Homo sapiens: one gene and its partners. The protein of the gene in region 7 interacts with the protein of the main gene of each other region in a biochemical or structural test. Each region holds a gene or a part of one and is shown on either strand. Other genes may lie near its edges. The genes, in order: SHROOM4, SLC16A3, PDLIM2, DENND5A, FZD4, GJD4 and PALS2.

Region 1 (3,885 bases), on a different chromosome or scaffold from region 7:
CTAATTGGAGACTCAGTTCCCCAGCATACACATCCCTGCATCATATTATAGTATATCACATTAGGCACTATATTCTAGGGATCCTTTCCTTATCACCTCCATTAATAGGGAAGTGATTATAGGTGGTCTATGTAGTAAACATCAAAGCAAAAAGCAGATTCCTTTCACAGAGCACTGAGAGGAAATGCATAGAGTCCATAAAGCAAGCTATACCTATACCTGAATCAGTTATTAGACTTAAATAATACTTAATTATTCCACTAGCTGGCTTCTGTGTGTATCCCAGCATTTTTTAACAGAACAGTATGTAGGTTATAAAGGTACTAGAGTTTAACTTGGCTGAAATTAGGATATCTTTGTTTGCATTTTAGATTCAAAATATTATGCATCTATATGTCCCTTACAAAATCTTAAAGCTGCTTCCTTCTGGCTAGGACACTGTCCTCTCCTAGGGTCTGGAATAGAATCTTCTTCAAGAGCCCAGAGATCGTGGGATGATATAGCAAGCATAGTGAGCTACCTGAGATCTTGTGATAAAGTTACTTTATCTCCCTGGGCCTTGCTTTTTTCATCTAAGAAATGGAGAAGATGAATGGTAACTATTTCATAGGTTTATTTTCATGATTAAATCAATCATTACCCAAAGTGCTTAGAACAATGCAGGGCACATAGTAAGCAATCAAAAAAATTAGCTATTTTGGGAATGATGCTGTTCCTTAAATCTCCATCACTCAAAGGAGCATCTAATTGATTTTGTAGTCACAAGCAGAGCTGTGTGCAAACAAATGTTTTCCCTTACATCCTAGAGTCATTAAAAATAAATCTCTGGAGCAAGTTACAAGATCTCTAGTAATAGTGATTTCTTTCTGTCTGGCCAAGGTGCCAAGGCAAAGGGAGCTACACAAAGAAGGAAGAACCAGGGCTTGTAACTGCTGCCTCTGGTACACCTTGCCCTACAGGAGAGAAGAGGACCCTGTGACTCCTGGCCTATGGAAAGAACAAGATCTCTCTGGGAGAGGCTGCCTAGGAAGGCAAAATAAGCATGGGCTTTGGAGTCAGACAGCTCTGGCTTTGAATGTTTGCTGTGTAACTTGGAATTAGTTAGTTTCCTCATCTGTCAAATGGGGATAATAATGGCTAATAGGGCTATTGGGAGGATTAAATGAAATAGATACATAATGTCTGGCAGTGTCTGGTATATAAGAAATACTTAATAAATGTTCATCCATTCATTTATTTGTTCTTTCTTCTTAAATATTTGTTAAGTGCCTACTATTGGGAGGTCATTTTCCCTTTTCCCTGCTATGATAGATAACAATCACAGGTATTTTTCACAAAATGTTTTCTAATTACAATGAGAATGCTCCCCAGGTAGAAGAACAGCTTGAGAAGCAGCCACATGGGATCTAATGAAGGATTCTTTTTTTTTTTTTTAATTATACTTTAAATTTTAGGGTACATGTGCACATTGTGCAGGTTAGTTACATATGTATACATGTGCCATGCTGGTGCGCTGCACCCACTAACTCATCATCTAGCATTAGGTATGTCTCCCAATGCTATCCCTCCCCCCTCCCCCCCTCATGAAGGATTCTTAACAGTGCCTGGGAGCCAGGCCCTGTAAATGCTGTGCTTATGGCATCTTGGGCTGGAAAACTGATCAACTAGCTCCACATAGACAAGTCACAGATTTGTCTGACAATAAAAGACATGATAACAAGGTACTTCTAACCGCAACAAGTCTCAGGCAAATTCCTGCTATAAAGAGAGTTAAGGAAAGCACTTATAAGCCACCTGCCTCCCGAACCTCAGCCCCAGCAGAGAGTGGGCTGAGCTCTCCACAGGAGAGCAGGTGGAGCTGCTGACAGCCAGAGCACTGAGCAATAATAGCAATGATGGTCCTGGGGCTTTTGCTTTGGAGCAAAAGAAATTAAAAAAAAAAACCCAACCATGCACTATAGGGCATGCAGATGACAACTGGCTCAGTGGAGTGAACAAACACTGGCAGTCCTGCTGCCAGAACACACTCTTGCTTTGGCCTCCCTGCCCAGGCAGCTCACCCTGTCAACTACCACCTATTACACACCCACATGAATGCAAAGAGGCAGGTAAACAAGGAGGGGGAGAAAGTGGAAGAGAAAAAGAATGTCCTTATCTATTGTAAGGAATTATCAAGGCATGAAGCACCCAGCCCCAGGAATACCTTTGATGCTGGTGGTTGTGGGGGGACGAGTTTAGAAGCCCAGGCTACTTGTCCTAGAGCAGAGGCAGGTCAGGTTGTGAGCTGGCCTCTTATTCTGGAGGGCAAGCAGAAGAGAAGGCAGGAAAAGTGCCTGAGCCAGGTTTCTGGGAAAGACCTAGTATAGGCAACAAGTGTTCAATGCCTTTGGGATCAGGGGCCAGAAATTGATGGATACCATGAAGACACACTAAGGAAAAGTATAGTACTTTAATAAAGATATTTAGGGATAAGAACATGATATTTACTGAGCATGTACTATGTGCTAAGCATGGAGCTATATCCTTTATGTAGATTATCTTAATATTCATAACAATCATGTGAAGCAAGTATCATTATACCCATTTTCCAGGTAAGAAAACTGAGGCTGGGAGCAGTTTAACTGGCCAGCCTGAGGTCATCCAGTTAGTAAATAGTGGAGGTAAAATTCAAACTTGTGCTGCCTGCCTCTTCAGAGACCTAGTATCTTTCATATGTACTTACTTGGCGGATTCAGTGGCTTCCTGTCCCGATGTCCTCCAAAGCCCACCAATGCCATAGTAGCAAGGGGGCTGAGCCTGCTCAGGTTGAGATCCCAAGTGACCCCTTATTGGAGGCAAGAAATCACTGGAATGGAGTGCAAAGGATTCTTGCTCTGCTGGGACACTTTGTGAACCCTGTCTCGAGCCCTCCAGGTGGCCAAAGCTGAGGGGTTGTGGCTGCTCTAGGACCTCCTCAGGATTGAGAGCACAGGAACCAGAGGTTTCTGAACTGAAATACTGGGGTGGCAGCTCCTCTTCCTCCTCCTCTGCCTCCTCCTCCTCCTCTTCCTCTTCCTCTTCTTCTTCTTCTTCCTCCTCCTCCTCCTCCTCCTGTTGCTTCTGCTGCTGCTGTTGCTGCTTCTGCTGCTGGGCTGCACGAAAGAGCCTGTACTTCTCCCAGTTGGGAGGAGGAGGGCGAGGAGGAGGAAAGGCCTTCTTCCTGGCTCCGAGAAGATCCGACTGGGTCTCATCACCTTTGCTAAAGAGCTCCCTCCTATGCTGCCCCCAGGCCCGGGTGCTTTGGGGCGCCAAGCTGATGTGACTCTCTGAGAAGGCACGGCTGCGCAGTGGGTGGGGCATGGAGGCAAGGGAGCTCCCCTCCTCATAAACTGAAGTTTCCTCTGATTTTTTCAAAGCATGTTTGAAGTCTCCAAGGAGGTCAAGAGAAGAAATTGCTCGGTAGCTTGACAAGTCCAGTGCTGGGTTCTCAAGGCAAGGATGGAAAGGGGTTGCCCATGAAAAGCTAGTCTTGGAATGAGCCATTTCCCTGCAAAACATCAGATGAGTACTGAGAAAAACAAGCAAGTTGCAGATAGGCCCATATTTTGGATGACAACATTTATATAAAATTTAAAATGTCCACAAAACAATGTAGTATGTGTAGTAAATGTAATAATAGTAATAATAATATTATAATAATGATAGCTAACACTTACTGAGCACACACTAAATACTAGGCACTGTTTAAGTGGTTTCCATGTCTTCACTTATCTAATCCTCACAATAACCCCAGGAGGTAGCTATTACTATTGCACTGATTTTACAGTTGGGGAAACTGAGGCATAGAGCATTTAAGTAACTTGCCTGGGGTCATAAAGCTAGTATGTGGTAGAGCTAGGATTTGAA
Region 2 (4,645 bases), on a different chromosome or scaffold from region 7:
GGTGACTCAACAATCTGGGATGGGGAGCACGGTACCCTCGCCTCCCCGGCAGGCAATACCCCATAGGGGACCCATTCCCGCAGCTGTCCACGGTGCCTCGCACCCCTCTGCTGCTCTCCCTCCTCAGAAACTGATGAATCGCCTGGTGCAGGAAGATGGGAGCACCACCTGCCCTGGGCGGGAGCACCACCTGCCCTGGGCGGGAGCACCACCTGCCCTGGGCGGGAGCACCACCTGCCCTGGGCGGGAGCACCACCTGCCCTGGGCGGGAGCAGCACGGGCCAACTAAGTAGAGTCTTCATCTGTGAAGTTGGAGGCCCCCTCACCACTTGCCACAGGCCTGTGTTCTGCTCACAGGCACGTGCCCTCATCTTGATGTTTGGGGATGGGGGTGGTTGGGCCCCAGGTAGGGGTGAGGGCCAGACCCAGCCTCTGTGAATGCCAGCGGGAGGGTGGGCTTGTAACATTACATAGAAAGAACAGGCGGCCTTACTGGACCTGATGTCCCGCAAGGCTGGGCTGCAGATGGAGAGCCAAGGCCCACACGGCCTCACTGTCAGGGGTGGCCTCCCCTTGCCCTCTGGAGGGGTCCTCCATTGATACCCCCTGCCTCCTTTGTGTGTGAAGGCACGGGCTTACCAGTGCCTCGGTCCCCGAAGCCCCCGGGTCCGGGAGGGGCCAGTTAAAGCATTCCTGTGGCCCTGGCAGGGTGGCCCTGACAACTAGACTCCTTGGTCCAGGCCAACAAAGGCCTTACTCCCTGGAGCCACCTCAAACCTCAGCACCCAAAGCGGCCCGTTATTTCCATGTTGCAAATGAGAGAAAACAGGCTGGGAGAAGCACCTCACGAGGTCCAGCGGGTGGGCAGCCCTCGCCTCCCCGAAGGTGGGAGCCGCCCCGGCCTCCGCGTCGGGTTCTGGGCCGCGAGAGGGGCGGGGCAGGGGCGCAGGGCTGGAGTCGGTGGCTTTGTAGGGCCCCGCAGGGCGCGGAGCCACCTGGGGAAACGGAAGTTCAGGGAGGGCGAGGCCGTGCCCCACATCCAGGCAGCGCAGGCCGCGGGCCGCTCCCCTAGCCAGGAAGAGCCGCCGTCCGCACCGGGACCGGAGAGGAAGCGGAGGTCTGAAGGGGGACAGGTCGGACGTGGCCTCAGAGAGGGAGGATGTGGGCCCCGGAGCTGAGCCAGGCGGCCGGAACCCCACGGGACCCGCGCGCACCTCCCCACCAAAGGGGCCCCGGCGTTGGGGGGCGAGGGGTCGCTGCCCTGGAGGACGTTGGGACCTGCCGCGCTGCGCTCCGAGGCGGGGAAACGGAGGGACGGCGGGGCGGAGGGGCGAAGCGAGCCTGGACTCCGGGGGAGGCGAGGCCGGGAAGACCCAGTCCCGAGGAGCAGAGGGGGCGGGCCAGCTCCGGGCCGGGGGCGCCGACGGGGCCGGTTCCGGTTGGGGGGGTCCCTGGGCCCGGCGGGGTTGCGGGACGCGCCGTCGGGGAGCTGCGGCCCGGGAGCCCGTCCGGAGGCGGCGCGGGGTCCGGGCGGGGCGCGCAGGGGCGGCGCCAGGCGGTGACGTGCGCGGGGGACGTGCCGCGCCAGCGACCCGAGCACTTAAAGTCGCCCCCGGCGCGGAGCGGACCGGCAGAGGCGGGCAGAGGCGGCGAGAGGCGGCGAGAGGCGGGCTGAGGCGGCCCAGCGGCGGCAGGTAGGCGCGGCCGCGATGCTCGCGCGCGGGCCGGGGCCCAGGAGCTCCCCCGTGCCGGGCAAGGGGGCGACCTCGGGGTCCGCGCTCTCACCCCCACCCCGCCCACTTTGTCCATCAGGTCCGGGGGCGCCCGGGGCATGGACTAGCCTTCTCGACCCCGAGCGGGCCCCACCGAGGGCTCCCGAGAGCCAGCCGCGCCCCTCCGCGCCCTCGCATACCTGGCTGCCCAGTCTCGTCTCCCCCGGTCCGGCCCGGCGCCCACCCGTCGGGCTGCCCTCAGGGGCTGGGCTCGGGCCAGGAGATGGCTGCGCCGGCGGCCAAGCCCGGTCCGGGTATAAATAGCTCGGTCCGCGGTGGCGGGGGGCGCGGGCTATATTTGGTGGGGCTGCTGCAGCCCTCCCTGTATGGGTGGCCTCCCCGAGGGAGTGGGGAGCACTTGCGCTCGGGCCGTGGCGCTTTCCCCTGTTCGCAACACCCTGAACACTCCCCGACCCACACCCGCCCTTGGGCAATGACTAACAGCCCGAGACCGTGCAGGGAAGTGGGGGACCCTCTCCAGAGCCAGGCTGGGCTCCCTGGGTTCGCCCTACCTCCACCCCTGGCCCCCAGCTCGTGGGAAAACCAGGCGCAGCCTTTGGTAGCCTCCCACTTCCTAACCCACGCCTCAGTTTCCCTATACGAAAAGTGGGTTGGTCAGGAGCCTCCCTGGGTGTTGGGCCAGTCAAGAGACAGGAGCCGCAGAGTGGAAGGGAAGCCCTTAGCTCTGGCCGGGGCCTCCAGGGGTGGCTGGAGTCGGTGAGGGACGATGGGGGGAGCCGAGGGGCGGCTGTCCTCCTCTCTGTCCCAGAGGCATGGGCTGAAAGGGTCCCTCTCCTGGTGATGGCCAGAGTCAGGCCTGCTGGGCGGGAAATGGCAGTTGGCCCACCCCAAGGCCCAGGGGCTTGTCCATGCTGAGCACAAGGGTGGGAGGTCTTGTGTCTGTTGGGGCCGGGGAGTCCAAGGTCCCAGCTTCACTGCACAGGCCTGGAAGTCAGGTGGGTGCTGGCCTGACCCTGCTGAAGGAGGGTCTATTCCGCCAGCGTGGTGTGGAGGCGGCTGGGCTCGACTCCCTCATGGAGGGAAGGAACTGAGGAGGTGCTAGGAGGCCGTGGGGGGGTGTCTGCCCCCAGAGAGGCTTTGAGTGCATGGGGGCTCTGCCGTGGCACGTGCAGCGTCTGTCCCCCAGGGCCCCATGGTGTGGACAGAGTCTGGGGTGGGCACCTGGAGGCCTGGTCTCAAGGCAGGCTTGGTAACGACCCCATGTGACCTTGGGCAGGGCCCGCCATCCAGGCCACCCAGAAAGCCATGTGGCCTGCACGATCAGGCCAGACCCCACTGACTGGAGCGGGGCACTTTACTTTGGAGGGGCAGCTACCAGAGGGCTCTATGGATCCCAGCCCAGCCGTCAGGCCGGACGGGTCCCCCCTACTGGCCTGCAGTGACCCTTATGCCAGGCTCGGCTGGCTCAGCGGTGGGTCCTGGGGTGACCTGGCCACGTGGGACAGAAGGGCCTGTGCCGCTCCCTCCAGTGAGGTGCCAAATGTGGGCCACACTCTGGGCCCCAGCGGGGGCCTTCCGGGCAGTGGCGCAGAGCCATTGGAGGTGCCCGGGCCCTGGGGCAGGGGCGGGGCGGGAGCAGACAGAGCTCAGGGCGTCCTCCTAGCGTCACCTGCCCGAGTCAGGCCCATCTGTGAAATGGGCCACGCCGGGCAGCCGCACGCAACGGAACCGAACCGCCGGGCTCCTGCTCCGAGACCCGCAGTTCACGAGTCGACGCCCCCGAGTCCCGAGCCGCGCCCACTGGTCCCACCTCTGCAGCAAGTGGAGTCGGCCCCGCCCTGTGGCTTCGAGGCCCCGACGCCTGGCGCGGCTCCCGGGCTCCGCTGACCCCGGTGGACCCGCGCGCCGGCAATTACGGTAGCGTCCAGTAGGGCGCCTACTGCGGGCAATACGGGGGCTCCTCCCATGGCGCGGTCACGTCCCCCACGTCCCGCGGCTGGCGGGGCGGGGCCGGGCGGAGCATCCTTCCCTCCCCCTCCCCCGGGTGGGCCCCGCCCAGCCTCGACCACCCGCGCCGACCCCCGCCCGCAGAGCCGGGAAGCCGGAACCCGCAGGCGCCCTCCAGCCGTCCCTCCGGCCCGGGCGGGGATTGCGCCGAGGAGGGGCCTCTCCTGGCGAGGGTGGAGTTTTGGGTTCCCCCCTTCGCCCCGCACCTCCCGCCTTCCTGCCTCCTCCCGGTCTTCACCTTCCCCCCCGGGTCCCCACGACGCCCGCTGGGCGGCGGTGGGGTAGGGGGCGCCTCCTGACCCGACTCCCCTTCCAGCCTTGGCCTTCAGGCACTGGCTTTAGGGTGGAGGGGCGGCCTTGCGGGGTCCAGGAGGCCTCGGAGGTGGGGGACGGCGGCTCTGGACCAGCTCCGGCCCCCACCACCTCCCGGCCCCAGGGCGGTGACAGCCTTGCGGAGAAGGGGTCTTCAAAGCTCTGAGACCCCGCAGTGCCAGCTCAGGATTGAAGCCTGCGGCGGCACATGCAGCCTTCCTTTCCCAAAGGGGACTTGCGCCCAGCCCCACTTGGGGCACCAGTGGGGGCTCCTGGCCCTGGCCCTGGGTGGGAGTGGCCAATCCGCAAATGAGGCCTGTGTGTCTGCCCCGCCGGCCCCTGCCGTCGTGATGTAAGCGGACACAGAGCGGCAGGGCACGGGCTGCGCGAGGGGTCTGCGGGGGTCAGAGGTGGGGCGCAGGGCCCAGGCCTGGGGCAGCCCCTTGCGCAGCGTCCACCCCCTGCAAGCTCGGCCCCGACACCTTTGCAGGCGCCTGGGGCGGGGCTGCCGGGAGTTGCTCACTGCTCCTTCCTTGTTTGCACAACAGGGGCTGCGGGGGAAGAAGGGAACTGAGGGAGGCCCCTCCCCCGGT
Region 3 (2,547 bases), on a different chromosome or scaffold from region 7:
CCGTTCATTGGGGCAGATGGGCCTGGCCAGCTCCCATGGAAGTGAGCGCTGCTGTGGGAGTTACTACTCCCACAGCCCCTGTCCTTAAGGTGCTCAGCACCAATGCCCTCTAGAACAGTGGGGAGAAGGGGAGGGAGATGACAGGACAGGTAGGAGAGTGGCCAGAGAGGCTTCATAATTCATCTATGACTTTGAATTTTAAAATGGAGAGAAGCTGGTTTCCCAGGAAATGGTGCCCCTGGCCCTGGGCACTGGCCCGCCTGGCTGTCTCCAAGGCTCTCCTTCCCAGTGGCTGGTGTGGGCTCCTGGACCTCAGTTGAGTCCCATTGGGGTGGCAATGGAAAGGGAGCAGGGGAGTGGGGAGTACAGAGATGCAGGCTGGAAACTGGCCTCCAGGAACAACTGTGAGGTTGAAGGTGAGATTTCCATTTTGGGAGCAAATGTAAGAGGCCATATGGACAGGGCACACCTGGAGATTGGCAGGTGGCTGGTTCTAACGCTGATGTTTAGCTCCAAGGGGCATTTGCAGAGGCACAGGGGGTGGGGTGAGAAGGTTTGGAGCAAATCTGGTCTGTTTTGACCCTGAGGCCTCAGAAGGTCCCAGGAGGCAGCACAGGGAGAGAGCAGTGACTTTGCCAAGGAGGCCTCAGCGTCCTTAGCTGCAGACGGGCGACAGCTGCCCCGTAGCCCTGGGCTTCATCTTCGTGTGGCTTGAGAGCTCAGATGTGACAAGGCATGGAAAAGCACTTTGAAAGCCACACCGAGGCATTGCGCTCCTGTTGCCATCTCCAGTTATTATCTAATCACACTGTTATTACCAGGTCATTAGAGAGGGAGCACCTGCTTCACCTGACACTGAGCACAGATGGCCCCAGGTGGCCTTGGATGGGCAAACTCGGCCTTGTACCTGCCTCCTTCATGCCCTTGCCCAGCCTCAGCCATGGATCTGGCAAGATCACCTTCCTCCTTACCTGGTGCCACTGTCAGCGTGACTTTAGGGTTTCTCTTATAAGGGTGCTTTCCAAGACCACCTCCTCAGAGCATCTTTGGGAGGATGCTGTGGTTGGTGGGCTCTCACCACATGTCTGTCTGCCCTGCCCCCAGGTGGCACGCCAGCCTTCTTGCCCAGCTCACTGAGCCCCCAGTCCTCCCTGCCCGCCTCCAGGGCCCTGGCCACCCCTCCCAAGCTCCACACTTGTGAGAAGTGCAGTACCAGCATCGCGTGAGTGTGGAGGGGGGTGGGGGACCTGAGCCTTCACAGGGGAGTGGGGAGGGGGACAGGGCACTGGATGCTTTCAGGAAGGGCCGGGCCCATCAGGGGCTAGCACTGGGTACCCAGTCGGGGACTCTAGGGGAAGCAGTGTTGCACAGCTTTGGGGGCATTAGTTACAGGCTTCTTAGGAGCCTAGGCTAGCTGCTTCCGGCTGCATCTCCTCTCCCTCTCCTCCTTTTCCCATCCCTTTTGATTTCTCTTTGATCATTTCAAAGCCTCTGGAGATCTGCCCGGAGGTACAGCACATCCTCTTGGAAAATCTTGCTCTTTCCCCTTCTTCCCCCTTTGGAGCAGGCTGCATTTTTCCCGATGTGGGCTCATTTTTCTTATTTTTCTTTTCTTTTCTTTCTTTCTTTTCTTTTTTTTTTTTTTTTTTTTTTGAGACGGAGTCTCATTCTGTTGCCCAGGCAGGAGTGCAGTGGTGCAATTTCAGCTCACTGCAAGCTCTGCCTCCCAGGTTCACGCTATTCTCGTGTCTCAGCCTCCCGAGTTGTTGGGGCTACAGGCTCCCGCCACCACTCCCAGCTAATTTTTGTATTTTTAGTAGAGACGCGTTTTCCCCATGTTGGCCAGGCTGGTCTCAAACTCTTGACCTTAGGTGATCCGCCTGCCTCGGCCTCCCAAAGTGCTGGGATTACAGCGTGAGCCACCATGCCCAGCCGAGGTGGGCTCATTTTTCTCATTAAGTGGCATTTATAATGCAACCACATTCTCTGGAAGGTTGCTGAAACCCCCCCTCAGGTAAATTTCTGAAGTGTGTAGTGTGGGAGGGGCAGGTGATTGACTTTAGGCAAATCCCTTAACCTCTCTGGGCTTTAGTGTTTTCATCTGCAGAGTGGGAGAATATCCAGTCCCCCTGCTGTGCAGAGATAGGGAATGTGTGTTGAAAAAGCATGTTTTCCATCCTGGTTCTCAAAGGTGTGTGTGTCGGGTCCCTTGGAGGGTTTGTTAAATGCCGATGGCTGGGCCCCACCCCAGAGCCTCCTCTCCAGGAGGCCAACAGGCCTGAGAATGTGCATTTCTCACGAATTCCCCAGTGATGCGGATGCTGCTGGCTGTGGGACCCAGGACCACACTGAGAATCACTGCTCTGTTAAAAATCCAGGCAATGTGGGACGGACTTACAGTCTTTATGTGAGAGGAACAACTTTTAAAAAAAATTTTTAATATTTTTAATAGAGTTTCACTCTGTTGCTCAGGCAGGAGCGCAGTAGTGCCGTCATGGCTCACTGCAGCCCCAAACTCCTGGGCTCAAGTGATCCTCCCATCTCAGC
Region 4 (4,616 bases), on a different chromosome or scaffold from region 7:
AACACGCATAAAAAAAAGTTTATTCCACCACCTTAGTTTCTTTTACTGAGAAGAATTATGTTGTTTTTAATATTTCTCAACATGTTAGTGTTTTCTAAAGACCTCCAGCCAGGCCAATGAGATGCAGTTTAATGTCATGAGAAGAGCACTGGACCAAGCAATTAACTAGTGTATACAGGCCCCACTGTCCTTCCTGGGCCTCATTTTCCCCTCTGAGGTCCCTTCCAACACCAATACCCTGAACCGAATTCCAAAAATTACATCAAAGTCACAAACTTACTACATATGAAAAAGATGAAAAACATCTGTACTATAAGAATTTGAAGACCTTAAAAGATAAACTTGAACAATTATTAGGTACTCATCAAAATAATTTTTTTTTTTTGGACGGAGTCTCGCTCTGTCGCCCAGGCTAGAGTGCTGGAGTGCAGTGGCGCGATCTGGGCTCACTGCGAGCTCCGCCTCCCGGGTTCACGCCATTCTCCTGCCTCAGCCTCCTGAGTAGCTGGGACTACAGGCGCCCGCCACCACGCCCGGCTAATTTTTTGTATTTTTAGTAGAGACGGGGTTTCACCCTGTAAGCCCGGATGGTCTCGATCTCCTGACTTCGTGATCCGCCCGCCTCAGCCTCCCAAAGTGCTGGGATTACAGGCGTGAGCCACCGCGCCCGGCCTAAAACTAAAATTTTTTTAAAGTAAATTAGAAACCATAAAACTACCCCGACAAAAAGCCTAATATTAATTATATTACTGCTTCATATTTTCTCCACCTGCTATTGAGGAAATAGCTCATTTTTTTCTAACCTTGTTAAAGCATGAATTTATCATGCTTTTTTCTTCTTTTTCTTTTTTCCCAGACAGAGTCTCGCTTTATCACCCAGACTGGAGTGTAGTGGCGCAATCACCCAGACTGGCGCAATCTCAGCTCACTGCAACCTCCCCCTCCTGGGTTAAAGCGATCCTCCTACCTCAGCCTCCTGAGTAGCTGGGATTACAGGCACGCGCCACGACGCCCGGCTAATTTTTGTATTTTTAGTAGAGACGGGGGTTTCACCATGTTGGCCAAATTGGTCTCGAACTCCTGACCTCAGGTGACCCGCCCGCCTCGGCCTCCCAAAGTGCTGGGATTACCCCTGAGCCGCCGGGTGGTGGGCCACCGCGCCCCGCCTAATTTTTTTTTCATAAGAAACACTGGGCCGGGCGCGGTGGCTCACGCCTGTAATCCCAGCACTTTGGGAGGCCGAGGCGGGTGGATCATGAGGTCAGGAGATCGAGACCATCCTGGCTAACAAGGTGAAACCCCGTCTCTACTAAAAATACAAAAAATTAGCCGGGCGCGGTGGCGGGCGCCTGTAGTCCCAGCTACTCGGGAGGCTGAGGCAGGAGAATGGCGTGAACCCGGGAAGCGGAGCTTGCAGTGAGCCGAGATTGCGCCACTGCAGTCCGCAGTCCGGCCTGGGCGACAGAGCGAGACTCCGTCTCAAAAAAAAAAAAAAAAAAAAAAAGAAACACTGGACTTTTTCTGGTGCCCAAAAACAAAACTGTCTTGTCATCGTTGAAGCCGAGTAAGATTAGTCAACAGGATAATCACTTTCGAAAGAGAAACTTTACAGTGACAGAAAAGTGAAAAGGAGTCCCCCTCATCAGGATGACACAACCTTAAAGTACAACCCGACAAACCTCCACCCACTTGAAACCCACTAACTGGAAACTCCAGACAAAAACTTATTTTCAAAACTGTTACAATTCAAAGACTCCAATGACAGTGCAGTGGAAAATTCACGGGGACTGTATAATTTTCACGGCCTTCTGCAGTGAGTGCCAAATCTGGTCAGGGCCCCATCTTTGACTCCCCTCATCACTTTCCCTTTCAAATATGACTTGAAACGCATCAGAACACACCAAGCCTCTCCAACTACAATGCTGCTACCCTTTTATTCACAAACGCCTCTGTCCTCATAAAGGACATAAATTACTTTTCAAAAAAGGCATGGCCCCGGGATACAAGCCCTTTCCAAGGCTAAGGGAGTTCCTACTCTTCTTGGTGCCGCCCAAGTTCACTTTATTACTTCATATCCCATCCAGACGCGCAGAGCTGCAATCTGACTCAGGGGGCCCAGCCCAGGGCTGGGGTATAACGGTTTTGAGGAACTAGTATCACAAGCTTCTTGGGAAGTGGCCAGATAAACTCACCAAGTTTTTGTTTTCCTTTTTTTTAAGTCTGGGTGGAACTTACTTTCACTAGGACGTGGGACGCCTTCCCTCCCTAATGGGTGCCAGAGGACAAGCTTTCCTTTATTTTAAACGAAGTCACTCAACCTACACCAAACTGAGAACACACAACCCTCCCTCTTTCTGGTCGCCGAAGACGTGGCCACTGCGCAGCGGGCCGTAGGTTTGGACCCCTCATGGCTCAGAGCCCCTCATCCGTTTCCCCCCTCCAGTCCAAAGCCCCCTTCGCCCGCGCCCGCCCTGGTCCTCCCGGCCGACACTCGCCCGGCTCCCGGGACAAAGCGGGGCTGAAGGAAGGTTTCTTCTGGGGTCCCCGACGACAGCGGGCGCGGGAAAGCGCCCCGGGCTCGGCGCGCACTCACCCGACAGCTCGTCCGGCTCCAGCCCGGTCTCCGTGTCCAGTCCGCAGATGACAAAGTAGTCGGCGAAGCGACTGGGCGCCGAGCCCCCTCCGCCGCCGCCGCCACTCATGGCGCCGGGGCCGAGACCGGCCGGGCAGTGCGGAGCGGCACCGAGCCCCCGCAACCCGGGCGCCCGCCCGTCCGCCCTCAGGCCGCCCCTCCCGCCGCCGCCGCTACCGCGGCTCGGGCCGCCGCCCCCGGCCCTGGCCCGGTCCCCTCGGCCGCCGCGGCTGCCGTGACGGGGCGGGGGGGCACCGGGCCGCCCCGCACCGCATCCTGGATGCCTTCCCCTCCGCGCCGCCGCCGCTGCAGCTAGCCGAGAGCGCCGCGGCCCGAGCGAGCCTGGAGAAGGGCGGAGAGCGCGTGGACAGCCCCCACCGTGACCCTCCTCCTACCGCGCCTGCGCAGGCGCCGTCTGGGAGGGGGCGGGCTCCTGGGGGAAAGGATGACGTGATGCTCTTCGGACCCCGCCGGCCGCAGCTTCCCGGGAGGTCGCCGCAGCGCAGCCGGTGACTGCTTGGTCGCCCGCAACTGCCACTCCCCCGGGATTGAGACTCCTTTAGGGAGGGCTGAGGAGGTGCGAGAAGAGTGGGCGCAGCCTGCAGAGCCGGGCATTTGGCCCATGCTCTGCCCCCAACCACCCACCCAGCAAGCAGAGGTCCAGAGATCTTAGCGCGGCCTTGCCATGAGGATGGGGTCTCACGACTGAGCTCGGAAGCTCACCTAATCCTAGCTGCAGCGTGTCAGCCTAGACCCCAGACAGGGCCTTCTCCCTGTCCTCTCTTTTGGCAGGGGCGGATGAGCCGGTTTTATATTTACCCTTATTTTACAGACGGGGAAACTGAGTCTCAGAAAGAAGCAAGGACTTATCCAAGGTTACGCTGAGTCTAAGAGACATAAGCCTGGTCTGGAATCCTGGGCTTGTGGTCAGCTCCCCGTTCCTCGCCGCTCCCACCTCCCAGCCTGCCCTTTTCCCACGCTCTCTCCTTTTTTCTCTGGAAGCCTCCAGAGGCGCCTGCCATTTGGGAGCTCCTCTTCCTCTTCACTCTGTGAAAACTCTCAGATCCACCCCTAAACCTGTTTTCCTGTAAGAGGATAGGGAGGAGGCGAAGGGAAACTTACCTATTGGTCCTTGTCCTAGGACCCTCCGATTTCCTTTCCCATAGAAGCTAGGCAGATGTGTCTTTGTTGGAAACTGGAGATCAGAGGCCAGAAAGGCAACACAGGTATAGTGGTCACTAGCATGGGCTCTAGAAAAAAATGCTCGGATTTCAATCCTGACGATCATTTACTTTTGACCTTGAGCAAGTTAATCTCTAAGTGCCTGGCGTCATGGTTTTTGAGACAATTACATAAGGTAAATGCAAGTACAGGTAAAACAATGAGAATACTGCCTGGAACATGGAAATCACTCAGTAAATATTACAGATTTTTTTTTTCAAGACGGAGTTCTGTCTTGTTGCCCAGGCTGGAGTGCAATGGCGTAATCTCGGCTCACTGCACCTCTGCCTCCCAGGTTCAAGTGATTCTCCTGCCTCAGCCACCCAAGTAGCTAGGATTACAGGCGCGCACCACCACACTCGGCTAATTTTTTGTATTCAGTAGAGACAGGGATTCACCGTGTTGGTCAGGCTGGTCTCGAACTCCTGACCTCAGGTGATCCGCCCTCCTCTGCCTCCTAAAGTGCTGGGATTACAGGCATGAGCCAATGAGCCCCCAGCCTGGATTATTATTATTGTTCCAGAAGGAAGTACTCTTACGGTTTGTTCTGGGAGGCTGCCACTAAGAGCTGTAGAAGGCAGCTGGCTTCCCCAAAGGCTGAGCCTAGGCTCTCTCCTAGGTTCTCCTGGGTACTTCTCTCAAATATTGTTTCCCTTGGGGAGGTTTACCTAGAGGTTATAGCCATTGTCTCTCGGAGCCATAGCACCTGTTCCTCCCTGTATCTAACCTGCCTGAACTAGGGGGAGAAAAGTGGGGAGGAGAA
Region 5 (3,885 bases), on a different chromosome or scaffold from region 7:
AAGAAAAGTATGTAAGTGATGGATTATCAGGCGCCCTTGTTTGAGGTCAGAGTAAACAGACAGACTCCCGATAGGTTGGTTTAAAAGTAGATACCTAGATTGCCTGGAAGCATTCAACTCAGCTTTGTGGGAGCATTTGGTCAAACTTCCAAGTCATTGTTTTTTTTGTGTGTGTTCATTTTGTTACTTTTCCAGTTCTTCCTTTGTTCTGTTTATGTGCCAATGTGCACAGAGAAGATCAACATCCCCATTGGCCCATGCGGCGGCATGTGTCTTTCAGTCAAGAGACGCTGTGAACCCGTCCTGAAGGAATTTGGATTTGCCTGGCCAGAGAGTCTGAACTGCAGCAAATTCCCACCACAGAACGACCACAACCACATGTGCATGGAAGGGCCAGGTGATGAAGAGGTGCCCTTACCTCACAAAACCCCCATCCAGCCTGGGGAAGAGTGTCACTCTGTGGGAACCAATTCTGATCAGTACATCTGGGTGAAAAGGAGCCTGAACTGTGTGCTCAAGTGTGGCTATGATGCTGGCTTATACAGCCGCTCAGCCAAGGAGTTCACTGATATCTGGATGGCTGTGTGGGCCAGCCTGTGTTTCATCTCCACTGCCTTCACAGTACTGACCTTCCTGATCGATTCTTCTAGGTTTTCCTACCCTGAGCGCCCCATCATATTTCTCAGTATGTGCTATAATATTTATAGCATTGCTTATATTGTCAGGCTGACTGTAGGCCGGGAAAGGATATCCTGTGATTTTGAAGAGGCAGCAGAACCTGTTCTCATCCAAGAAGGACTTAAGAACACAGGATGTGCAATAATTTTCTTGCTGATGTACTTTTTTGGAATGGCCAGCTCCATTTGGTGGGTTATTCTGACACTCACTTGGTTTTTGGCAGCAGGACTCAAATGGGGTCATGAAGCCATTGAAATGCACAGCTCTTATTTCCACATTGCAGCCTGGGCCATCCCCGCAGTGAAAACCATTGTCATCTTGATTATGAGACTGGTGGATGCAGATGAACTGACTGGCTTGTGCTATGTTGGAAACCAAAATCTCGATGCCCTCACCGGGTTCGTGGTGGCTCCCCTCTTTACTTATTTGGTCATTGGAACTTTGTTCATTGCTGCAGGTTTGGTGGCCTTGTTCAAAATTCGGTCAAATCTTCAAAAGGATGGGACAAAGACAGACAAGTTAGAAAGACTGATGGTCAAGATTGGGGTGTTCTCAGTACTGTACACAGTTCCTGCAACGTGTGTGATTGCCTGTTATTTTTATGAAATCTCCAACTGGGCACTTTTTCGGTATTCTGCAGATGATTCCAACATGGCTGTTGAAATGTTGAAAATTTTTATGTCTTTGTTGGTGGGCATCACTTCAGGCATGTGGATTTGGTCTGCCAAAACTCTTCACACGTGGCAGAAGTGTTCCAACAGATTGGTGAATTCTGGAAAGGTAAAGAGAGAGAAGAGAGGAAATGGTTGGGTGAAGCCTGGAAAAGGCAGTGAGACTGTGGTATAAGGCTAGTCAGCCTCCATGCTTTCTTCATTTTGAAGGGGGGAATGCCAGCATTTTGGAGGAAATTCTACTAAAAGTTTTATGCAGTGAATCTCAGTTTGAACAAACTAGCAACAATTAAGTGACCCCCGTCAACCCACTGCCTCCCACCCCGACCCCAGCATCAAAAAACCAATGATTTTGCTGCAGACTTTGGAATGATCCAAAATGGAAAAGCCAGTTAGAGGCTTTCAAAGCTGTGAAAAATCAAAACGTTGATCACTTTAGCAGGTTGCAGCTTGGAGCGTGGAGGTCCTGCCTAGATTCCAGGAAGTCCAGGGCGATACTGTTTTCCCCTGCAGGGTGGGATTTGAGCTGTGAGTTGGTAACTAGCAGGGAGAAATATTAACTTTTTTAACCCTTTACCATTTTAAATACTAACTGGGTCTTTCAGATAGCAAAGCAATCTATAAACACTGGAAACGCTGGGTTCAGAAAAGTGTTACAAGAGTTTTATAGTTTGGCTGATGTAACATAAACATCTTCTGTGGTGCGCTGTCTGCTGTTTAGAACTTTGTGGACTGCACTCCCAAGAAGTGGTGTTAGAATCTTTCAGTGCCTTTGTCATAAAACAGTTATTTGAACAAACAAAAGTACTGTACTCACACACATAAGGTATCCAGTGGATTTTTCTTCTCTGTCTTCCTCTCTTAAATTTCAACATCTCTCTTCTTGGCTGCTGCTGTTTTCTTCATTTTATGTTAATGACTCAAAAAAGGTATTTTTATAGAATTTTTGTACTGCAGCATGCTTAAAGAGGGGAAAAGGAAGGGTGATTCACTTTCTGACAATCACTTAATTCAGAGGAAAATGAGATTTACTAAGTTGACTTACCTGACGGACCCCAGAGACCTATTGCATTGAGCAGTGGGGACTTAATATATTTTACTTGTGTGATTGCATCTATGCAGACGCCAGTCTGGAAGAGCTGAAATGTTAAGTTTCTTGGCAACTTTGCATTCACACAGATTAGCTGTGTAATTTTTGTGTGTCAATTACAATTAAAAGCACATTGTTGGACCATGACATAGTATACTCAACTGACTTTAAAACTATGGTCAACTTCAACTTGCATTCTCAGAATGATAGTGCCTTTAAAAATTTTTTTATTTTTTAAAGCATAAGAATGTTATCAGAATCTGGTCTACTTAGGACAATGGAGACTTTTTCAGTTTTATAAAGGGAACTGAGGACAGCTAATCCAACTACTTGGTGCGTAATTGTTTCCTAGTAATTGGCAAAGGCTCCTTGTAAGATTTCACTGGAGGCAGTGTGGCCTGGAGTATTTATATGGTGCTTAATGAATCTCCAGAATGCCAGCCAGAAGCCTGATTGGTTAGTAGGGAATAAAGTGTAGACCATATGAAATGAACTGCAAACTCTAATAGCCCAGGTCTTAATTGCCTTTAGCAGAGGTATCCAAAGCTTTTAAAATTTATGCATACGTTCTTCACAAGGGGGTACCCCCAGCAGCCTCTCGAAAATTGCACTTCTCTTAAAACTGTAACTGGCCTTTCTCTTACCTTGCCTTAGGCGTTCTAATCATGAGATCTTGGGGACAAATTGACTATGTCACAGGTTGCTCTCCTTGTAACTCATACCTGTCTGCTTCAGCAACTGCTTTGCAATGACATTTATTTATTAATTCATGCCTTAAAAAAATAGGAAGGGAAGCTTTTTTTTTTCTTTTTTTTTTTTTCAATCACACTTTGTGGAAAAACATTTCCAGGGACTCAAAATTCCAAAAAGGTGGTCAAATTCTGGAAGTAAGCATTTCCTCTTTTTTAAAAATTTGGTTTGAGCCTTATGCCCATAGTTTGACATTTCCCTTTCTTCTTTCCTTTTTGTTTTTGTGTGGTTCTTGAGCTCTCTGACATCAAGATGCATGTAAAGTCGATTGTATGTTTTGGAAGGCAAAGTCTTGGCTTTTGAGACTGAAGTTAAGTGGGCACAGGTGGCCCCTGCTGCTGTGCCCAGTCTGAGTACCTTGGCTAGACTCTAGGTCAGGCTCCAGGAGCATGAGAATTGATCCCCAGAAGAACCATTTTAACTCCATCTGATACTCCATTGCCTATGAAATGTAAAATGTGAACTCCCTGTGCTGCTTGTAGACAGTTCCCATAACTGTCCACGGCCCTGGAGCACGCACCCAGGGGCAGAGCCTGCCCTTACTCACGCTCTGCTCTGGTGTCTTGGGAGTTGTGCAGGGACTCTGGCCCAGGCAGGGGAAGGAAGACCAGGCGGTAGGGGACTGGTCTTGCTGTTAGAGTATAGAGGTTTGTAATGCAGTTTTCTTCATAATGTGTCAGTGATTGTGTGACCAAG
Region 6 (4,579 bases), on a different chromosome or scaffold from region 7:
GAAAAAAAGAGAAAGAGAAAAAAGACAAGGAATGGGGATGGGGTAGACTTCAAGGAGGAAGAGCAAAGGTGACCAGGATGAGAAGGGAGATGGGTGGGCATGGGCTGCTCAGAAGATGCCCTGAAGGGTGGGACCAGAGGAGCCAACCCTGAGAAGCGCCTGTCACTGACACTGGGTCATTCTTTACATTTCAAAATCATTTTCACATCTCTGGTCACATTTGCATATCACAGTCACTGTGAGTGGGTGAAGAACACATTCTTTTTTTCTGCTTCACTGATGAGAAAACCGAAGCATGAAAAGCTGCAGTGATTTGCTCATGGTCGCGCAGGGCTAATTTATTCCACATTTGGGATGGGCTATTTCTATCACACAGCAAGAGTCAGTAATTGCTTTCCTGATATTTCATTTTTTTTTTAAAGCCAATACCATGAGCAGTCTATTAGGAGACAAATTCTCCTTTATTTTATACTTACACCCTGTGACTATTTCAATATTTTTACTTAACTACAATTTCTCAAATTTCCTTGCTCATGTCGAAGCATTTGACTAAAATATAGCAAAACCACTGTTCCTTTCAAGGGGGTCAAAACGTTTTCCGTGGATGGGAGCATGTCATGTGAGCAAAGATGAAAGTAGCTTTGTTGCACTCTTCTGGGAATCTTTCTAGGGATATTACTAAAGTCAAGAATAGATCAGAAATGAAGAAAAGATGGGGATATAAAGAATAGCTTTCATGGAAAATTGAAATCATTCCTTTTAAAGTTTACAATTTCCACCCTGATCATAGATCCCCAACCCTGCAGGATGGGTTCTTCCCAGATATGAAGGTGGCTGCAGCGATAGGATTTTGACGCAACTGTGATTGATGTCAGCAGGTCCAGACCGTGATATTTCATGACAGATTTAACAGACATTTATTAAGTAGATTCAATGGGAACAGCTCCAGGCTAGATGGGGCTGGGAGATACAAAGGGAAGATGTAATCTGTGAAGGTCGTAGAGGCCAATTAGGGATTGAAATCCCACGGATATGGGTTGTCGTACACCCACTTCACACCAGTTGCTCTTATTCTACACCATCATTTCACATAAGCCTCCCACAAATGGCAAGTGGAATGGCATGATTCTCCTTATTGCAAGATGAGGCTATCTGGAAGGATCCAATGACTTCCCCAGTGAGTAGGGGGCTGCCCCGGGCTTTGCACCCAGGCTTTTGTCTCCAAGCGAAGAGTTGTCACTCACTGCACAGGAAGCAGCAGGAGAATAACCAAGTCACGGTCTAAAGTTGGGACACCCAACTGAGTTTCAGATTTCTGCCTGCACCAATGACACAGGAATTCAGAATAAGGGCGAGATCCTTGTGGGTTCGTGTGATGGTGGCATGGCGATTCATGCTTGATTGAGAAGACAAAACGTGAACACTTTAAGGGCTTCTTGCACAAGTGAAGTGGTTGTGGAAATGTTTTCAAGGAGGAAATGCCTTTTTAATAGAGAAATTTACTTGGCTAGTTAGCAGAAGTTTTCTTTCTTGGGTTAAAAGTAGTTGCTGCTATTATATCCTGAAGCATCTGGCTGTCCTGGTGGGGACATATGAGCGCTGCCACAGGCCGGGAATATCCCAGGCGAGTAAGAATAGCCCACAATAAGAGATGACTGCTGCTTGCTCTGCTGGTCACTGCAGTTGTCAGGAATGTTTCGCCTCAGAGGCAAACGGCTTAGGGCCGTCTCAACTTGGAGACAGAAAAACCCACCTCCTACTCCTGGCTCAGACCTTTGCTTTCTTATCTCCAGCTCACACCTTTAAGTCTTATGTAGTTAAAGGACATTTATCCGCCTCCTTGGAGAACACAGCCCTCCAGTGTCTCCTGCAGCCTGGAGCCTGGGACATTCTGGAAGCATGGAAGGCGTGGACTTGCTAGGGTTTCTCATCATCACATTAAACTGCAACGTGACCATGGTGGGTGAGTATTGGGACCATCTCCAAACTCCTGCGCTGTTTTTATTTCCACTGCCATGGTGGAATTGAGTCCTTAAAGGGTCCAGGTATTTACTCATTTTCAGTGTGCAAGCACCAAGCTGAAAGTCCACCCACTCCCAAAAGAAAGGGCTGTGCCTTTCTGGAGGGAAGAGAGCTGAGGCTTCTAGTTTCTTTGAATGGTTCCGCGGTTCCTCCGTCATGTAAGGGAGTCTTGCGTTTGACATTGTTCTCTCACAGATCATCCTGTGCTGACACTGGGGTGCTGACTCCAAAGACCAAAGCAGGTGGAGGGGTGTTTGTGTGCAACCCTGGTGTGGCTACGTTACCAGGAAAAGGAACAGAACAACAAATGTTAATCAGAAGGTGATACCTTTAGGTTTTATTCTGGAAGCTTGGTTTTTTTTTTTTGTTTTTGGAGACAGAGTCTCACTCTGTTGCCCAGGCTGGAGTGCAGTGATGCAATCTCAGCTCACTGCAACCTCTGCCTCCCGGGTTCAAGTGATTCTCCTGCCTCAGCCTCCCGAGTAGCTGGGACTACAGGCGCCTGCCACCACGCCCAGCTAATTTTCTGTGTTTTTAGTAGAGACGGGGTTTCACCGTGTTAGCCAGGATGGTCTCGATCTCCTGACCTCGTGAGCCACCCGCCTTGGCTTCCCAAAGTGCTGGGATTACAGGCGTGAGTTACCACGCCTGGCCTGGAAGCTTAATTTTTAAGGAGTAGCCATTTCTCTTGTGCACTTTAAACCAAATCCCAAGTTTAGTTATTTTTTTTAACAAAGAAAATAATAGATTTTTGTTTAATGCAGACGACTCACATTTTCAGAGAGGTATGGGGGTCAGAAAAGGATGAATATATGCCGGAGATGCAGTTGATACTTTTCTGGCTCATTATTTTGTAGATTTAGACAAAACCAACTTGATGTTAAAAGTTCAACTCAATGACTCATCACATAATGATATTATTCTTTGTTTGACTGTCTTTACATATTTATTTTTGTTTTGTTTTTATGATGTCAGGCGATGTTTCTCTCATCACAAAACACAATATTCACAAGTTATTTTGGCTGAGTTTTAAACATGTTTCGAAACAGTTGGCCGGTGCCATGAAAATAGGGCTTGACAGTTATTTTGGTTTTCTAGCTTGGTGTCATTCCTTCACGATACATTGAAGAAAGACAAGCCCCATTCATTCCTAATAACTGGAAAAGGGGAAGAGGAATTCTGAATGATTAAAAAATCTGAAAAATGGAATGTTCATAAAGAAATTCAATTTCAAGGGCCGTAGACTAACATTAAATACAAGCCCTGTGATTAAATAGAGATCCCTGGACTGTTGTCATAAGTAAGATTTACTGAAATCAGCAGCTCGAATTGGCAGTTACAGAAATACACCAACCTCTTTTAAAAGGCTTATTCTCCTAAGAAGAAAATTTAAATCTTATTTAAATCATTAATTTGCTCAGCCAAACTTTCTTTCTGGACCTATCAGTCCAGGAGACATTACCAAAAGTCTGAATTAGCAGACAGATTAAAACACTTTTAATATAATGCTTTTTAAAAATCTACTCATCTTGAAGCATCTTACAAACAAGGATGTTCAGTGCTCAGTAAATATTTGTCAAATGAACTACCTGATGCTGTGAGTAAAGACAAGCTGACAGGTGTGGTGGCTCATGCCTGTAATCCCAGCTACTCAAGAGGCCAAGGCGGCAGGAGCACTTGAGGCCAGGAGTTCAAGACCAGCCTGGGCAATATAGCACGACCCTGTGTCCAACAACAACAACAACGACAACACAAACAAACAGAAAACTAAAGACATGCTTATTGACGTTTCAATTTCCCAATCTCAGCCCCAATAGACACTTTAAAGCTGTTACTCAGGGCAGTGTATTCGGGGTGATGAGGCCATGCCCGCTTCCTCTCTTCCAGGAAAGCTCTGGTTCGTCCTCACGATGCTGCTGCGGATGCTGGTGATTGTCTTGGCGGGGCGACCCGTCTACCAGGACGAGCAGGAGAGGTTTGTCTGCAACACGCTGCAGCCGGGATGCGCCAATGTTTGCTACGACGTCTTCTCCCCCGTGTCTCACCTGCGGTTCTGGCTGATCCAGGGCGTGTGCGTCCTCCTCCCCTCCGCCGTCTTCAGCGTCTATGTCCTGCACCGAGGAGCCACGCTCGCCGCGCTGGGCCCCCGCCGCTGCCCCGACCCCCGGGAGCCGGCCTCCGGGCAGAGACGCTGCCCGCGGCCATTCGGGGAGCGCGGCGGCCTCCAGGTGCCCGACTTTTCGGCCGGCTACATCATCCACCTCCTCCTCCGGACCCTGCTGGAGGCAGCCTTCGGGGCCTTGCACTACTTTCTCTTTGGATTCCTGGCCCCGAAGAAGTTCCCTTGCACGCGCCCTCCGTGCACGGGCGTGGTGGACTGCTACGTGTCGCGGCCCACAGAGAAGTCCCTGCTGATGCTGTTCCTCTGGGCGGTCAGCGCGCTGTCTTTTCTGCTGGGCCTCGCCGACCTGGTCTGCAGCCTGCGGCGGCGGATGCGCAGGAGGCCGGGACCCCCCACAAGCCCCTCCATCCGGAAGCAGAGCGGAGCCTCAGGCCA
Region 7 (3,885 bases):
ACAGGAGTCCTATTATACATAATGATCTCATTTGACCCTTATTTTTGAGCATGAGTTTGAAGTTCATTTTGTTCTTATAAAAGTTTTCTATGTCTTAGGCTTATTAGAAATAGTCAAAACACTGTCATCTTTTTATTCGGATTACTTTCTTAGTTTAGTTTGGTGTAGTTAATAATTCCATCAGTTATTCTCCAACTACTTAGCTAATAGAAACAGGATACTTCTTATATCCGATCCAGCAAAGCCCAGAGTAAGGCTAAGCTTGAAATAACACGCTCAAAAATTACTTTTCTTCTTCAAAGCTGTTGTTAACAAAGTTGTCAGAGAGTACACATTTGCAACAGTTTAAAAAATGGTAATAACCGTTCCTAGCACAGACCAACTTGCAAAGGGTTGTATGTCTCTGAAAGTATTCAAAGCTGTAAAATATCAGACAAAAGGATCTCCTACTTCTAAATTTTGACTTGAGCTATTCAATCTCATTTTCCCAGAAATAATATGTCAGGTCAGAGGAGAGGAGGTTAATAGACCATAATAATAATGAGGCGTCTAGCTCTACCACTGAAGTATAAAATAGAACAGTTAACATTTGGGAATATCAATAAACAGGAAGCTAAAAGCGTTGGTTTTGAGGTAAGATAAAAGATAGATAATTTGTGGGTAAAACTGCACTTTACAAAATTGGTATCACAACTAAGAACAGGTGAACTTTGCTTGCTCACGTTTTGGGGCAGTTAGGAAGTGTTAATGTGGAAAGAAAAGATGTAATAGATTCCTAAGGAGAAGGAGAGTGCTGGTCAGTTGAAAAGATACTCACTCACAACATGCCTCAAACACTTACCATAATTAAGAACTTCATTGAAGGCTCTGCTGCTAGGTAAATATACTTTGAGTTTCAAAGTGATTTTAAGAAGCATATTTTTGGATACAAATTTTATTTGGGGGACTACCTCTTAAAATATTCCCCTAAGGTATCAAGAAACTTTTCTATTAAAGGGCCACATGGTAAAGTTTTAGGCTTCGCAGTCCATACAGTCTGTCACAATTACTACCACCATTTTAATGGGAAAGAAACCATGTATGATACATAAACAAATGAGTATGGCTGTGGTCCAATAAAACTTTATTTACAAAAATAAGAAGCAGATCAGATCTGGTCATAGCCTACAGTTTGCTGCACCCAGTGGAAAAACGTTAAGCCACCCTATGTATTTTAGTCTATTTTTTATGCCCTAAAATTTCTTTGTACAAAAATCTCAACACTATTTTATTTAGTTACTTCACGGAAACCAAGGGAAGATGAAAAAGATGGCCAGGCATATAAGTTTGTGTCACGATCTGAGATGGAAGCAGATATTAAAGCTGGAAAGTATTTGGAACATGGGGAATATGAAGGAAATCTCTATGGAACCAAAATTGATTCTATTCTTGAGGTTGTCCAAACTGGACGGACTTGCATTCTGGATGTCAACCCACAAGTAAGCTGCTTGGATTCCAAAGCTGTTTTATATTTTATTTTCTGTGGAGTTTTTTTCATGTGTGTCGGGGTTGTTGGGTTGGGGTTGTTTGTTTTGTCAGGGTGGAAAGGTGACTCCCTCCATTACCTTTGGGTGATAGAGAATGTTATTATGTATACATAGCTAGTTAAATAAATCTCTGAACAATTAGCCAACAGAGGCTTGGGTGGCAATAGAAACTGTGTGATTAGATCTACAATAGAAGTTTAGTATGTATTTATTTACCTGTTCAAGTAATGCATAAGTGCTTGTGTTAAGAAATGTTAAGTTTAAAACTCAAGTCTGCAATATAAAGAATAAAAAATTAAAGTCACTCCCCCTCCTACCTGACACACATGCACACCTCTACACTATTCATTTTGTCACTCTATATTTCTGTCACCTACCCCTTCCCACTCCGCTACACTCAGCCCAACCTCACGTCCCTACTCAGAGATAAAAATTGTTAATAGTTTCTTATGTCTCTTTCTAGTCATTTCACTATGCCTTAAATACAAATATATATAAGGTAATGGGTTTTCTGTTTTTGTTGTTTCTTTTTACATAAATGGAAAAATTCTATATAGATTCTTCAGGGGTTTTATTAAATAGAACTATTCCTTGGAGATCTTTTTGTGGTAGTTACTGTAGAGCTTTTTTTCTTTGTAATTGCTATATAGTATGAATATATATTCATTTAACCACTCTCCAATTAATCAACATTGAGGTTATTTCTACTTTTTGAGTATTAACAGAATTCTACAATTAACATAAAAAAGAGTTTACATCACTCTTGATGATTTTTGGATCATTGTTTTATACTTTGTTCAAGAGGAACAGACTGAGTTCAAAACAAAATAAATGGATCACTGTTTTAAGAAAGTACTATATGGAATGAGAAGGACAGAACAGGGATAAGTATTAAGTTATGTCCTTTAATTCATAGAACAAGTGCAAACAGCCTTTGATATATACTAAAGGGTAGCAGAATTCTAGTTCTAATATTGTATAAATTGGCTTATAATTATTCTTTTACACAGGCACTGAAAGTATTGAGGACATCAGAGTTTATGCCCTATGTGGTATTTATTGCGGCTCCGGAGCTAGAGACGTTACGTGCCATGCACAAGGCTGTGGTGGATGCAGGAATCACTACCAAGCTTCTGACCGTGAGCTAACCATACGATTTTCCTTCTAAAATCTTTCCTTTTCTTTTGAGCATGTTTAACTGTTATCTAATTTATTTTTATTTATTTATTTTTGAGGCAGAGTTTTGCTTTGTCACCCAGGCTGGAGTGCATTGATGCGATCTCAGCTCGTTGCAACCTCCCCGTCCCGGGTTCAAGCGATTCTCCTGCCTCAGCCTCCCAAGTAGCTGGGATTACAGGCATGCGCTACCAGGCCTGGCTAATTTTTGTATTTTTAGTAGAGACGGGGTTTCACCATGTTGGCCAGACTGGTCTTGAACTCCTGACCTCAGGCAATCTGCCCACCTCGGCCTCCCAAAGTGCTAGAACTACAGGCGTGAGCCACCGTGCCTGGCCAACTCTTAGCTAATTATGCTTATGAAATAAACATGCTATATAAGGTGCTACAGAATGAAAATTAATTAGATGTAGTTAGGATCTGGAACAGTATTCTTTTACTTGAAAATCATTGTACACTTTATTTTAAATCAAAAGTTTAGTTCCCCTTTGTAAAATGAAATGGACCAATATTAAAATATGCGTATTAATTGAACGCCTTCATTTTACTAGTGGGGTAACTGGGCTCCGAGATCATTAACAGGCATGTTTATTATATGGTTTATCATTGGTAAAGTGGGGTGTTCTGATGTTTAGTTTCTATTACATGTTTTTTCCTTTTTTTCCTGTCTACTTTTTTACTTAATGGAAATTCAAAAATATATACAAAAGAGGGAATAAATGAGTCCCTATGCCGATCGCCTAGCTTCAATAATCGTGGCAATTTCTTGTTTTAATTAGACCCCTCCCCACTTCCTCCTCACCTTGAATTATTTTGAAGCAAATCTTTGATATCATGTCATCTGTAAATACTTCAGTATTTATATCTAAGAGATAAAGACATTTAAAACATACCATTAATACAACAAAAATTAATAAGCAGTATCTTACTATCATCTACATGCAGTCTATATTTGAGTTTCTCCAAGATTTTTTTTTTTTTTTTTTTACTGTTGATTTGTTCAAATAAGGATTCAAACAAGATCAACACATTGAATTTACTCATTGTCACCTAAATCTTTTGCCAGCTTAATTGAGGTATAATTGACACATAATAAGCTGTGCCTACCTAACATGTACAGCTTGATCAGTTTGGCCACATATTTGTACTCATGAAAGCCATTACAACCAAAATAATGAACATG

The links.
Region 1: the proteins of PALS2 (region 7) and SHROOM4 interact in a test that uses a peptide from one of them, tested with the Homo sapiens proteins (one large-scale study listed by IntAct).
Region 2: the proteins of PALS2 (region 7) and SLC16A3 interact in a test that uses a peptide from one of them, tested with the Homo sapiens proteins (one large-scale study listed by IntAct).
Region 3: the proteins of PALS2 (region 7) and PDLIM2 interact in a test that uses a peptide from one of them, tested with the Homo sapiens proteins (one large-scale study listed by IntAct).
Region 4: the proteins of PALS2 (region 7) and DENND5A interact in a test that uses a peptide from one of them, tested with the Homo sapiens proteins (one large-scale study listed by IntAct).
Region 5: the proteins of PALS2 (region 7) and FZD4 interact in a test that uses a peptide from one of them, tested with the Homo sapiens proteins (one large-scale study listed by IntAct).
Region 6: the proteins of PALS2 (region 7) and GJD4 interact in a test that uses a peptide from one of them, tested with the Homo sapiens proteins (one large-scale study listed by IntAct).

What each region holds. Positions count from the first base shown.
Region 1 is NC_000023.11:50,604,659-50,608,543, forward strand, and holds part of SHROOM4 (protein Shroom4), read right to left. Parts: intron 3,527-3,885; coding exon 2,723-3,526; intron 1-2,722. UniProt on the Homo sapiens protein: Probable regulator of cytoskeletal architecture that plays an important role in development. May regulate cellular and cytoskeletal architecture by modulating the spatial distribution of myosin II.
Region 2 is NC_000017.11:82,227,413-82,232,057, forward strand, and holds the start of SLC16A3 (monocarboxylate transporter 4), read left to right. Parts: upstream 1-1,629; 5' UTR 1,630-1,694; exon of another isoform or gene 1,695-4,645. UniProt on the Homo sapiens protein: Proton-dependent transporter of monocarboxylates such as L-lactate and pyruvate. Plays a predominant role in L-lactate efflux from highly glycolytic cells.
Region 3 is NC_000008.11:22,590,447-22,592,993, forward strand, and holds part of PDLIM2 (PDZ and LIM domain protein 2), read left to right. Parts: intron 1-1,104; coding exon 1,105-1,222; intron 1,223-2,547. UniProt on the Homo sapiens protein: Probable adapter protein located at the actin cytoskeleton that promotes cell attachment. Necessary for the migratory capacity of epithelial cells. Overexpression enhances cell adhesion to collagen and fibronectin and suppresses anchorage independent growth.
Region 4 is NC_000011.10:9,262,368-9,266,983, forward strand, and holds the start of DENND5A (DENN domain-containing protein 5A), read right to left. Parts: upstream 2,984-4,616; 5' UTR 2,703-2,983; coding exon 2,594-2,702; intron 1-2,593.
Region 5 is NC_000011.10:86,948,781-86,952,665, reverse strand, and holds part of FZD4 (frizzled-4 precursor), read left to right. Parts: exon of another isoform or gene 1-195; coding exon 196-1,524; 3' UTR 1,525-3,885. UniProt on the Homo sapiens protein: Receptor for Wnt proteins.
Region 6 is NC_000010.11:35,603,669-35,608,247, forward strand, and holds the start of GJD4 (gap junction delta-4 protein), read left to right. Parts: upstream 1-1,672; 5' UTR 1,673-1,899; coding exon 1,900-1,963; exon of another isoform or gene 1,964-2,297; intron 2,298-3,857; exon of another isoform or gene 3,858-3,909; coding exon 3,910-4,579. UniProt on the Homo sapiens protein: One gap junction consists of a cluster of closely packed pairs of transmembrane channels, the connexons, through which materials of low MW diffuse from one cell to a neighboring cell.
Region 7 is NC_000007.14:24,677,856-24,681,740, forward strand, and holds part of PALS2 (protein PALS2), read left to right. Parts: intron 1-1,275; coding exon 1,276-1,478; intron 1,479-2,536; coding exon 2,537-2,665; intron 2,666-3,885.